Homo sapiens: one gene and its partners. The protein of the gene in region 1 interacts with the protein of each later gene in a pairwise test. Each region holds a gene or a part of one and is shown on either strand. Other genes may lie near its edges.

Region 1 (3,652 bases):
TGGTATGTGTGGATTTCTTTCTTTCTTTCTTTTTTTTTTTGAGATGGAGTTTCGCTCTTGTTGCCCAGGCTGGAGGTCAGTGGCGCGATCTCGGCTCACCGCAACCTCTGCCTCCTGGGTTCAAGTGATTCTCCTGCCTCAACCTCCCGAGTAGCTGGGATTACGGGCATGCACCACCACATCCAGCTAATTTTGTATTTTTAGTAGAGACGAGGGTTCTCCATGTTGGTCAGGTTGGTCTCGAACTCCTGACCTCAGGTGATCTGCCTGCCTCAGCCTCCCAAAATGCTGGGATTACAGGCGTGAGCCACCACGCCTGGCCTGGTATGTGTGGGTTTCTGATGAGCCCAGTGGCTGGTGTGGGCAATGACTTTGTAGCCCCAGGATTCAGTGTTAGTGCCTGAGAGACAGTAATGTGCTGTTTTCATTTGTTCCTACATGCATGTATTCATTTATTTTATTTTATTTTATTTTATTTTATTTTGAGACGGGGTCTCACTCTGTCGCCCAGGCTGGCGTGAAGTGGTGCAATCTCGGCTCACTGCAACCTCCACCTCCCGAGTTCAAGCTCTTCTCCCGCCTCAGCCTCCCAAGTAGCTGGGACTACAGGCACACACCACCACACCCACCTAATGTTTACATTTTTAGTAGAGACAGGGTTTCTCTATATTGTTGTTCAGGCTGGTCTCAAACTCCTGACCTCAGGTGATCCACCCGCCTCAGCCTCCCAAAGTGCTGGGATTACAGGTGTGAGCCACCGCGCCCGGCCCATGTATTCATTTAGAGAGCATTCATTGAGAGCCTTCTGTATCTCAAGCGTTGTACTATGCAACAAGCACTGGGTGGTAGTTTGTGCTTTCAAGGGGTGGAGTAGATTTAACTTCTGGAGGAGTTGAGTCTGGCTGTGTTGGGAAAAAACTTGTCATGACAGGAACATTTTATTCCCATATCTAGGGAACTCTTGTCTGAGAACATTGACATGTCCTCCCTGCCAAGGTGGAAGCCCATTCTATCTCTTTTTTTCTTTTTGAGATGGGGTCTTGCCATGGTGCCCAGGCAGGCCTCGAACTCCTGGGCTTAAGCAATTCTCCTGCCTCAGCCTCCCAAGTAGTTGGGATTACAGGTGCACACCACCTCAGTGTGTCTTGCAACTTCATCCATCCAGAGTGCAGCCACAAACCAAGAAGTCACCAGGAAAGAGCAGAGAGTAGGGAGAGTAGATTCCATGAAGACTGTATACAAAAGCTTATTCTCTTTCTCTCTTTTTTTTTTTTTTAGACAGAGTCTCACTCTGTCGCCCAGTCTGGAGTGCAGTGGCACGATCTCATCTCACTGCAACCTCTGCCTCCTGGGTTCAAGCAATTCTCATGCCTCAGCCACCCAAGTAGCTGGGACTACAGGCGTGCACCACCATGCCTGGCTAGTTTTTGTATTTTTAATAGAGACGGGGTTTTGCCATGTTGCCCAGGCTGGTCTTGAACTCCTGGCCTCAAGTGATCCACCCACCTTGGCCTCCCTCAGTGCTGGGATTACAGGCATGAGCCACTGCATCCAGCCTGGAAAAGGTTGTTCTTGTTGCTCCTGGGGACCCAGTAGACTCTCGGTCCCAGTTTACTCTTACTTTACACATAGTTCCAACAATCCTGGGCAGCTAGTAACTAGCCTTGCTTAATAGATGAGAAGACAGGTGTCATTGCACAAGAAGAAAGAAACAAAAAGGCAAAGCCAGTTCAGCCATCAAATGAAATGGCAAATAGCTTCTCACTTTTTAGGCTCTAAGAGAGTCCTGGTGAATCCCAGGAAGAATACATGATGAGCACATGGTGAGCCGGGTTCTTTTTAAATTTTATTTTGTTTTTTTTTTTTTAAGACGCAGGGTCTTGCTCTGTTGACCAGGCTAGAGTGGAGTGGTGTGACCACAGCCCACTGTAGCCTCAACCTCCTTGGCCCAAGTGATCCTCCTACCTTAGCCTCTCAAATAGTTAGGACTACAGGTGTGTACCACTACATCCAGCTAATTTTTCTCTTTCTTTTTCTTTTTTTTGGTAGAGATGGGGGTCTCACTATGTTGCCCAGGCTGGTCTTGAACTCTTGGCCTTAAGTGATCCTCTTGCCTCAGCCTCCCAAGGTGCTGGGATTACAGGCATGAGCCACAGGGCCCAGCTAATTTTTGTATTTTTAGTAGAGACAGGGTTTCACAATATTGTTCAGGCTGGTCTCGAACTCCTGACCTCAAGTGATCCGCCTCAGCCTCCCAAGGTGCTGGGATTACAGGCATGAGTCACTGCACCCGGCCCACATTGTTTCTGTTCCTAATTTCTCTAGTAATTTCTATGAGAAAGACACTGATAGAGGCACTCACTCACTCAGGAGGGACGTGACACAGTCCGCTCTGAATGGCTGTCAGTTGCCAAATTTGGGAGACAGATGCAGCCGACACATGGTACAAAGTGCCAGATGTCAAGAGTCAAGTGGGCTTCCTGGGGGAGGTGGCATTTGAGATGGGCCTTGAAGGATGAGCGAGTGAAGACTGGAGGGTGGACACAGAAGAAAGTCATTGGTCATGCTGACAAGACCTGGTGGGTTTACCCTTATTTTACATGATTCTAACCATGTTTAAAAGAGGGGAAGTTTCTGGAAATGGGAACTAGGGTAAGTGTGTGGTTGATGCCTATGGTGGGTGCAGATAGGAGAAGGGAAGTGAGCTTGAAAAGGTTGTGATCTGACTGTAAAGGCTTCGAAAGCTGGGTTAAGGATTTTAGAATTTATTTATTCATTTATTTATTTATATTTTTTTCGAGACAGAGCCTCGCTCTGTCGCCCAGGCTGGAGTGCAGTGGTGCGATCTCAGCTCACTGCAACCCTCCCCTCCCAGGTTCAAGCAATTCTCCTACCTCAGCCTCCCAAGGAACTGGGTTAACAGGCGCGTGCTACCACGCCTGGCTAATTTTTGTATTTTTAGTAGAGACAGGATTTCACCATGTTGGCCAGGCTGGTCTCAAACTCCTGACCTCGTGATCTGCCTGCCTCGGCCTCCTAAAGTGCTGGGATTACAGGCGTCAGCCACCGTGCTGGACCTTATTTATTTATTTTTAGAGATAGAGTCTTGCTCTGTTGCCCAGGCTGGAGTGCAGTGACGCGATCACAGCTCACTGCAGCCTCAAACTCCTGTGCTCAGGCAATCCTCCCACCTCAGCCACCTGAGTCACTGGGACCACAGGCGTGTGCCACCATGCCCACATAATTTTTTTTGTTTATTTTTTGTAGTGACAGGGTCTCACTATATTGTCCAGGCCGGTCTTGAACTCCTGGGCTCATAAGATCTTCCTGCCTCAGCCTCCCAAACTGCTGGGATTACAGGCGTGAGCCACTGCACTTGGCCTAGAATTTAGTGAGCTGGTAATAGTGACTCATAGAAGAGGTTGTGCATGTTTAAATGGAAGACTTTAAAAATTTTTAATTGTGGTAAAATACACATAATATAAAATTTATCACTTTAGTCATTTATTTATTTATTTATTTATTTTTGAGATGGAGTCTCGCTCTCTGTCCCAGGCTGGAGTGCAGTGGCGCGATCTCAGCTCACTGCAAGCTCCGCCTCCCAGATTCAAGCGATTCTCCCATCTCAGCCTCCGGAATAGCTGGGACTACA
Region 2 (3,652 bases), on another chromosome or scaffold:
TGTGGTGGTATGCACCTGTAGTCCCAGCTACTCGGGAGGCTGAGGCAGGAGAATTGCTTGAACCTACGAAACGGAGGTTGGAGTGAGCTGAGATCATGCCACTGCACTCCAGCCTGGGTGACAGAGTGAGACTCTGTCTCAAAATAATAACATAAAAAAATAAAAAAGATGTTATTCATATCATGCAGTATATATCTTGGTGATAGAATTATTGAAGAGAGTGCATATTGCATTTTCTGATGTCTCCTCCATCAGTTTGGCCTCCTTTGACTGCACTCAATCCCTCAGCAATGTGTAGCCTCACTCAGAATAGATAATGTGGGTTCTCCTCCTCCCCTTTCCTGCCCCCTCACCTAGACACCGCTGCTAAACAAATGGACATTTTTCACTACTTGGACTCTGGGCATTCTCTCTCCTGGAAAATCTTAGCATTTGGACTCAACTGCTGAACTCTGTTGCCTTTGGAGCTCCTGTTTAATCTTCTCTCTTGCCATCTTTGCTGTTGCCTTCTCCTTCCGTGCAAGTCACCAGGTCTGCCCAGTACCCTATCGCAAAGATTGTTATTTTAGTTAGTATTATCCTGGAAATAGACTGTAAAGGCCAAGAATTGCAAATCATTCATTTGGAGGTTGGCACAGGCAGAGGTTCCAACTTCTGTGAAGAATGCTAGTTTTAACCAAATCACTAGATTAGTAGTTGTGGATAACCAAGTACTTCTTTATTTTCTTATTATTGCAACCCTAGTAATATATCTTGGTTTTAAATTTTACAACCACTGCTATAAAAAGGAGTAATCATGTTTTTTGTTTTTAAAGAGAAAAATAAGGATGATTTTTTTTTTTTGAGACGGAGTCTCGCTCTGTCCCCCAGGCTGGAGTGCAGTGGCATGATCTTGGCTCACTGCAAGCTCTGCCTCCTGGGTTCATGCCATTCTCCTGCTAGGAGGCTGAGTAGCTGGGACTACAGGAGCCCGCCACCATGCCTGGCTAATTTTTTTTTTTTTGTATTTTTAGTAGAGATGAGGTTTCACCATGTTAGCCAGGATGGTCTCGATCTCCTGACGTCGTGATCCACCCACCTCAGCCTCCCAAAGTGCTGGGATTACAGATGTGAGCCACTGCACCCGGCCAATAAGGGTGATTTTAAAAGACAAGAGCATAATGTATTTGAAAAGAATGTGTTTGGAGACATATAAACCTGGCTTTGAACTCTGAACCTATCACTTATCAGCTGTGTGGTTTAGCTTCAGGTATCTCTCTTAGACTTCTGCTTCCTTGAGACAGAGGTTGTGGCTGAGTAATCTGTGAGGGAGATAATATTATTACCCTAGTTTTATAGATGAGCAAACTGAGGCTTAGCAAAGTTAAGTTGGTAATAGAGAACTCAATTTGAACTCATGGAGATTTATCCCCTGGCCTTTTCTCTTAACCATTGAACTGTGCTATCTCTAAGAAGTCATAGAACAAGCAACTAGAGTCAGGGGACCTGGAACCATTTGAGAAACTGTGGGAGAGCAGTGGAACCAGAGAGCCCTGAGCATTTTTAGCCCAGTAGGAGCAGCATGTCCTGGGATTTGTCCAGAGCAGGGCTGAATCTAAATGAGAAAGTCCAGGCAGGAACCTGGTTGTATATGGGAAGGAACTGATCCAAGTTGGGAGTTTAAAATCCAAGGAACCAGCTCAGATCTGAGACTTGTGAACTAACCTTCGGGGCTAACAGGCCAGCAGGTCAGCCAGGATGGTGAGGGTGACTTTGCTCCCAGGCAGTTTTCCACTCCACCCTCAGGCTGGAGGTTGTTTTAAATATTTTATGTGAGGGAAGAAAGGGAAGCCAGCATGATCATCTGGGGCTGTCTGCTAATCGTGAGCGTGTGTGTAGAGGGGACAGAGAGTTTTAGACTTGGCAACAGCAATCTTTTATTTATGATTAAGTATAAGAGTAGGATGTAAAGTCCATTTGCGTTTTAGCTGTTATTTACCATGCTTTAAGTTAGGTGATTTTAAATTATTCACATTAAATTATTCACATTCTCATCGCTTTAGTTTCTTAACCTTATACTTCTTTCAAGATGTCCGCCAACCCCTGAAAATATGTGGCACAGTTGTTGGTGCACATATGTGTATTTTGTTGGGTTAGAGGTGCACCTGACTCAGTAAAGATTCAGTCTGCTAATTACTGTATTGCTTTCTCTTAGCTCAGATGGTATAATGCAAGCATATATATTTCTTCATTGTAAACTGTTCTCAAGAGGCGATTTTCTACTGATTCAAGTAAATTATAGAGAGGTGAGACAGATACATTTAAAATTTACATCTTTAGTCTAACCACAACATTTTTTCTCATATTAATCAGCAAGCTTTTAATTTTTAGTTCAGAAAGGAGAAGTATAAAGTTGGAAAAAATGCATGTTTGAAAGCACACAATGCTGCCCTATATAGATAGAGAGAGAGAGAGTATAAAAATCAAAATGAAACACAACCTGCAAATGTCAGAGAACATATTTGGAAGAGGAAATGCAGCTGGATTTGCCCAAATTTGCAAAACACCAGATGTTCCCACAGCTTGTACATGATGTTAAAAATGTAAAATAAATGTGTACTATTCATACACAGTGTGCAGTTTTCAAATGTGTACCCACATTTAATTTAGAAAGAAATTTTTGGAAAGAACTGGTAAGCTAATTCTCGAGTGCATAACAAGAACAATAAGCAATTGTTCAGATACTAGAATTCAGAAAGGAATATTCCCAAGGCCTGAACTGAGTGCCCAATCCACTGGTAAAACATACCAGAGAAGGCTCTTCACTTTCATGGTAACAGTCATTCCATTGCCATTTACATTTGCAGAATTCCTAGAATCTCTGGGGAAAATATTTACAAATAGTATTATGTCCTGCAGTCAGAGAGTGAATTTGTGTGCCATTTGAGATGATTAATATGCAGAAGGAAAAAGGAAGCAAATGTTTAAAGTGTATTTGTACCAAATCTAAATGCTTTTTTTTGTTGTTGTTGTTGTTGAATCAGATTAGAGTTGCTCCTCTATTGCTTGTCAATTCAGCTGTTATAAGCATTTTTATAGAAGGGACAGAGAACAAGTGAATGGGTTAGAAATCCAGGAAAATGGTTGTAAAAGAGGCTGAAAGGCAGGTCAGAACACAATTTGCTTGGTATTAGGTGGTTAGTAATGGGGAGCATATGTATAATCTTAGCCTTTGTGTTTTATACTTTCCACTTGCTGTCAATAGCTAGTACTGCTACATCCATAGATAAATGCATGGCAAATACTTCTCTCTCATATGAAATGCTGTCAAGAAGTTTGCCAGGATCCTTCTTTAAAAATTCCCAGGTAATCATACAGTTTAAAAAGTCCTTCTGGTACCTTGCCCAGTGTTACTCAACCTGGAATTAGATAGGTATTTACCCACTCCCCTTTCCCCCACCTTGCACGTGCTGCCTTTCCAACTCCCACCGTTTGTGATTCATTGCCATCGTAAACCACTGCTTCTAATGGGAAACATGTTGTCTCCTTTGGATTGTAGCAGAAAAATTATTGAGAACCTCTTATCTAGCCTACTTTCTAACCTTCAAACTCATTTCTATTGATAATTAAGCCAGTATCCCTGCTTACTTGCTTTATTTATTTAATAAAAGGT
Region 3 (3,652 bases), on another chromosome or scaffold:
TGAAAAACATCAAGATACAGAAATGTAATCAGTATACATGAACAGTATGACCTCAGTGGTCTCAAATCTATTCTTGCTACACCAAAATGTAAAAAGAAGTTTCTCTGAGTGGTGGGATTATAGGTGATTATCTTCTTCCTTATATCTTTTTTTCCCCCAAACTTTCTACAATGCATATGTATAATATTTACAGTTTAAAAATGCTTTAAATTTAGTTTGTAGCTTGCCCATGTTTAACCAGTGAGGTCTAAAATGCTAGCTATGTGATACGACTTAAGGCCCATAGGACTCAAAAATTGGAGTCTCCGTTAAAAAATGGTGTTTTCCAGTAATATGCAATGACGTGAAGATGAAAATGCTATTATATAAAGTAGTATATGGCATATAATTCCAATTTGTTAAAAAGTACACACATATATACTTATAAAGATACTAGAGGAAAACATAAAATGCCAACAGGTCAGTTGTTGGTGTAGGGCATGTGGGCGATTTACTTTCCCCTTTTTGTGTCCTTCTGTTTCCACTTATTTATTTATTTATTTTTAATTTTTAATTTTCTTTGAGATGGAGTCTCACTCTGTCACCCAGGCTGGAGTGCAGTGGCATGATCTCAGCTTACTGCAACATCTGCTTCCCGGCTTCAAGTAATTCTCCTGCCTCAGCCTCCCGAGTAGCTGGGATTACAGGTGCGCACCACAACGCCAGGCTAATTTTTGTATTTTTAGTAGAGATGAGGTTTCCTTATGTTGGCCAGGCTGGTCTCAAATTCCTGGCCTCAAGTGATCCACCCGCCTTGGCCTCCCAAAGTGCTGGGATTACAGGCATGAGCCACCACACCTGGCCCTGTTTCCAGTTATTTATAATGAACATTATCAGCATCTTTTATAATTTGAAAAAATTCAAAATTTAGTTTGAGAAGAAAAACATTGCCTCTATCTAGATATGGAATATCGGCTATCTTTTCAACTTGTCTTTCTCTCCCGTGCCTCCCAGCCATCCTTCTATTCCTCCTCCACTTGGTGCCATAGGTTCCTCTCGCCTTCCATTCCCATAGCTGCTCCTCTGTCCGCAGCTCATTTCCTCTTCTCCAGAACATAGCAATCTCTTAACCTAGTTTGTTTTCCTGCCGTCCCTTCTCTCTCTCTCTCTGACCTACTTCTGGAAGCACAAATGCTGGAATAATCCACGTGGATGACACTGCTCCCTTGCTTAACAGCCTGTGGCTCACCGTCCTAATGCTATTACTGGGAGTGTTCAGCCCAACCTTGTTACTGGCTGCCTTTACAGGGCTGGGGAGTGGGATGCAACAGTTACCAAGCCCCACCATGGGCCAGGCTCTGGAGGGCAGGCCCTTTTTTGTTAACTCACCTTTTGTGACAAAACCATGCAGCTTGACCATGCTAGCTTGGAAATAGGGTTCCAAAGTGTGTATTCATGCTACTTACAGACTCAGCTCTGCCGCTGACCTTGAACTTGTTTAATCCCCCTGCTTTTCCTCAGCTGTAACACAGATGTCCTGCCTCCCTCCCAGGGAGAGGCGAGGGCTGGGCACTCTGTGGCAGTTGGTAGCTGGTTTCCTTGCGAGCTGTTGTCCCTAAGGGATGCCCTGTACACCTTTGTTGCCCAGAGGTCTCGAACTGTGCTGACTGCCCCTTTGCTGTAAGAGCTCAGCCCAACTCATGAGCCCCCATTATCTCTCCAGCCCCAGGGTGGGCTCCACATGGCAGACGTTCCTCATCAGAAATGTCCCCAACTGTCACCTCCCCCATAAATGCATCCCTCTCAGATTTGACTCTGTTGAAATGTTCAGACCAGCGCCCCCAATTATCTTTATGTTCAGGGGTTCATTTCTTTGAATCTTGACGGGGCTCACTCTAGAACACCTACCAAATTGACAGGGCCACACTGGCTGCTCCCTTCCCCCTTAACCGCTTTGTCCTCATCTCCAGCAATGGCAACATAACCCCTCGGTCTCCCAAAGAAATCTAGGCCACAGCACCCACATCTCCCTCTCCTCAACTCCACATGCCAAATCCAGCTCCTTCTCTCTTTCCTAAGCATGGTCCAAGTCCATCCCACTACATTGCTTTGTGGGCCTAAAAGGAAGAGGCTGTAGCACAAACCAAGACTTAAGGAGTTTACTTGAGCCAAAGTGAGGACAGATTCCTGGAAGGCCCAGACCCAAGTAACCTTGGACATTATCTCTGTTTGGCCTTTGTTACAAGCAGTTTTTTTAAAAAGGCAAAAAAGAGGGACCGGGAGTGGGCTGATACAAAGTTGTTAGGAATTCTCATTAGTTTACAGAAATAACATTGATTAGCGACTGGTTATACATTGTTACACTACAGGGTGTGGGTTATAGTGTCCAGTGTGGCATTATTAGGTTATTTTTTAGCTACTTGTGCCAATGGCAAGCAGTTTCAAGAGATGAGGCCAGGTGTGGTGGCTCATGTCTGTAATCCCAGCACTTCGGGAGGCCGAGGTGGGTGGATAACTTGAGGTCAGGAGTTTGAGACCAGCCTGGCCAACATGGTGAAACCCTGCCTCTACTAAAAATACAAAAATTAGCCTGGCATGGTGTCTTATGCCTGTAATCCCAACTACTTGGGAGGCTGAGGCAGGAAAATCGCTTAAACCCAGGAGAACGAGGTTGCAGTGAGCCAAGATTGTGCCACTGCACTCCAGCCTGGGAGACAGAGAGATACTGTCCCAAATAATAATAATAATAATAATAATAATAATAATAATAATAATAAAAAGATGAATACACAGCTCAAAGTGGGGACTAGAACGTTATTGCTGTCTCATTTTCATGATTCTCTGGGCCTGATAATTTAAAAGGGCTTGCATTCCTCAGATAAAAGTTACTTTCTCACCTTTAGTCCATGACTTCCTCGCGTCTTGTCTGAACCGTTGCCATAGGCTCCTCTTATGCTTTCTTTGGCATCCCCAGCCTCACCCTGCCCCTACCCATGTCCCTCCTTCCCAAGGCAGCCACTGTTCCCGCTATTGCTGCCACTCAGGGCAGCATGACCTCGCTGGCACACTCCCTGTATTACCGACCTTGAGCTAAGTGCTTTACGCACTGACTCTTATCATTCTCTTGACAACCCCAGAAGGGTAGATTTTAAGATCTCCACTTGACAGATTAGCAAAACCAAGCTTCAGAGAGGTCAGCTAACTAGCCTCAGTGGTGGGCCGGGACCAGGCAGCCAGAGCCTGTCCCTGTAACCACTAGATGCTTGTGCTGCCTCCCTGCAGCGGCCTGGGCCTGTCTGTTGACTTCCTTGTGAACAGGCAGGGACCCTGGGTCTTTGGCTGTCAAATGTTTAATAAGTGAGTGCTTGCCTTGCACGGAACCCACACCACACTTACTCAGGCCCCTGGCTTTGGTTGGGGTCAGGCTCCATCATTTGCTGACCCTTATCTTTAAAAGTTCACCCTGAGGGGAGGAATGTTTTTAAAAGTTTTAAGTTATAGCATCCATTACAAAAACGTTTTCCATTGTGAAACCCCACAGAATTGATATTGTGCTGCAAGGATCAATCCTGCCTGACGCAGGTCTGCCAGCTGCCAAAAAACTGGTTAAACGTGTTAAGTTCAGAAAACCTATTGTCTGATGCTTTCTCACTGATTAAATGAGTTGTATTGA

Evidence for each region.
Region 2: the proteins of OLFM2 (region 1) and NBAS interact in a two-hybrid assay, tested with the Homo sapiens proteins (one large-scale study listed by IntAct).
Region 3: the proteins of OLFM2 (region 1) and GNB5 interact in a two-hybrid assay, tested with the Homo sapiens proteins (one large-scale study listed by IntAct).

What each region holds. Positions count from the first base shown.
Region 1 is NC_000019.10:9,926,428-9,930,079, reverse strand, and holds part of OLFM2 (noelin-2 isoform 2 precursor), read left to right. Parts: intron 1-3,652. UniProt on the Homo sapiens protein: Involved in transforming growth factor beta (TGF-beta)-induced smooth muscle differentiation.
Region 2 is NC_000002.12:15,271,271-15,274,922, reverse strand, and holds part of NBAS (NBAS subunit of NRZ tethering complex), read left to right. Parts: intron 1-3,652. UniProt on the Homo sapiens protein: Involved in Golgi-to-endoplasmic reticulum (ER) retrograde transport; the function is proposed to depend on its association in the NRZ complex which is believed to play a role in SNARE assembly at the ER. Required for normal embryonic development.
Region 3 is NC_000015.10:52,184,858-52,188,509, reverse strand, and holds part of GNB5 (guanine nucleotide-binding protein subunit beta-5), read left to right. Parts: intron 1-3,652. UniProt on the Homo sapiens protein: Enhances GTPase-activating protein (GAP) activity of regulator of G protein signaling (RGS) proteins, such as RGS7 and RGS9, hence involved in the termination of the signaling initiated by the G protein coupled receptors (GPCRs) by accelerating the GTP hydrolysis on the G-alpha subunits, thereby promoting their inactivation.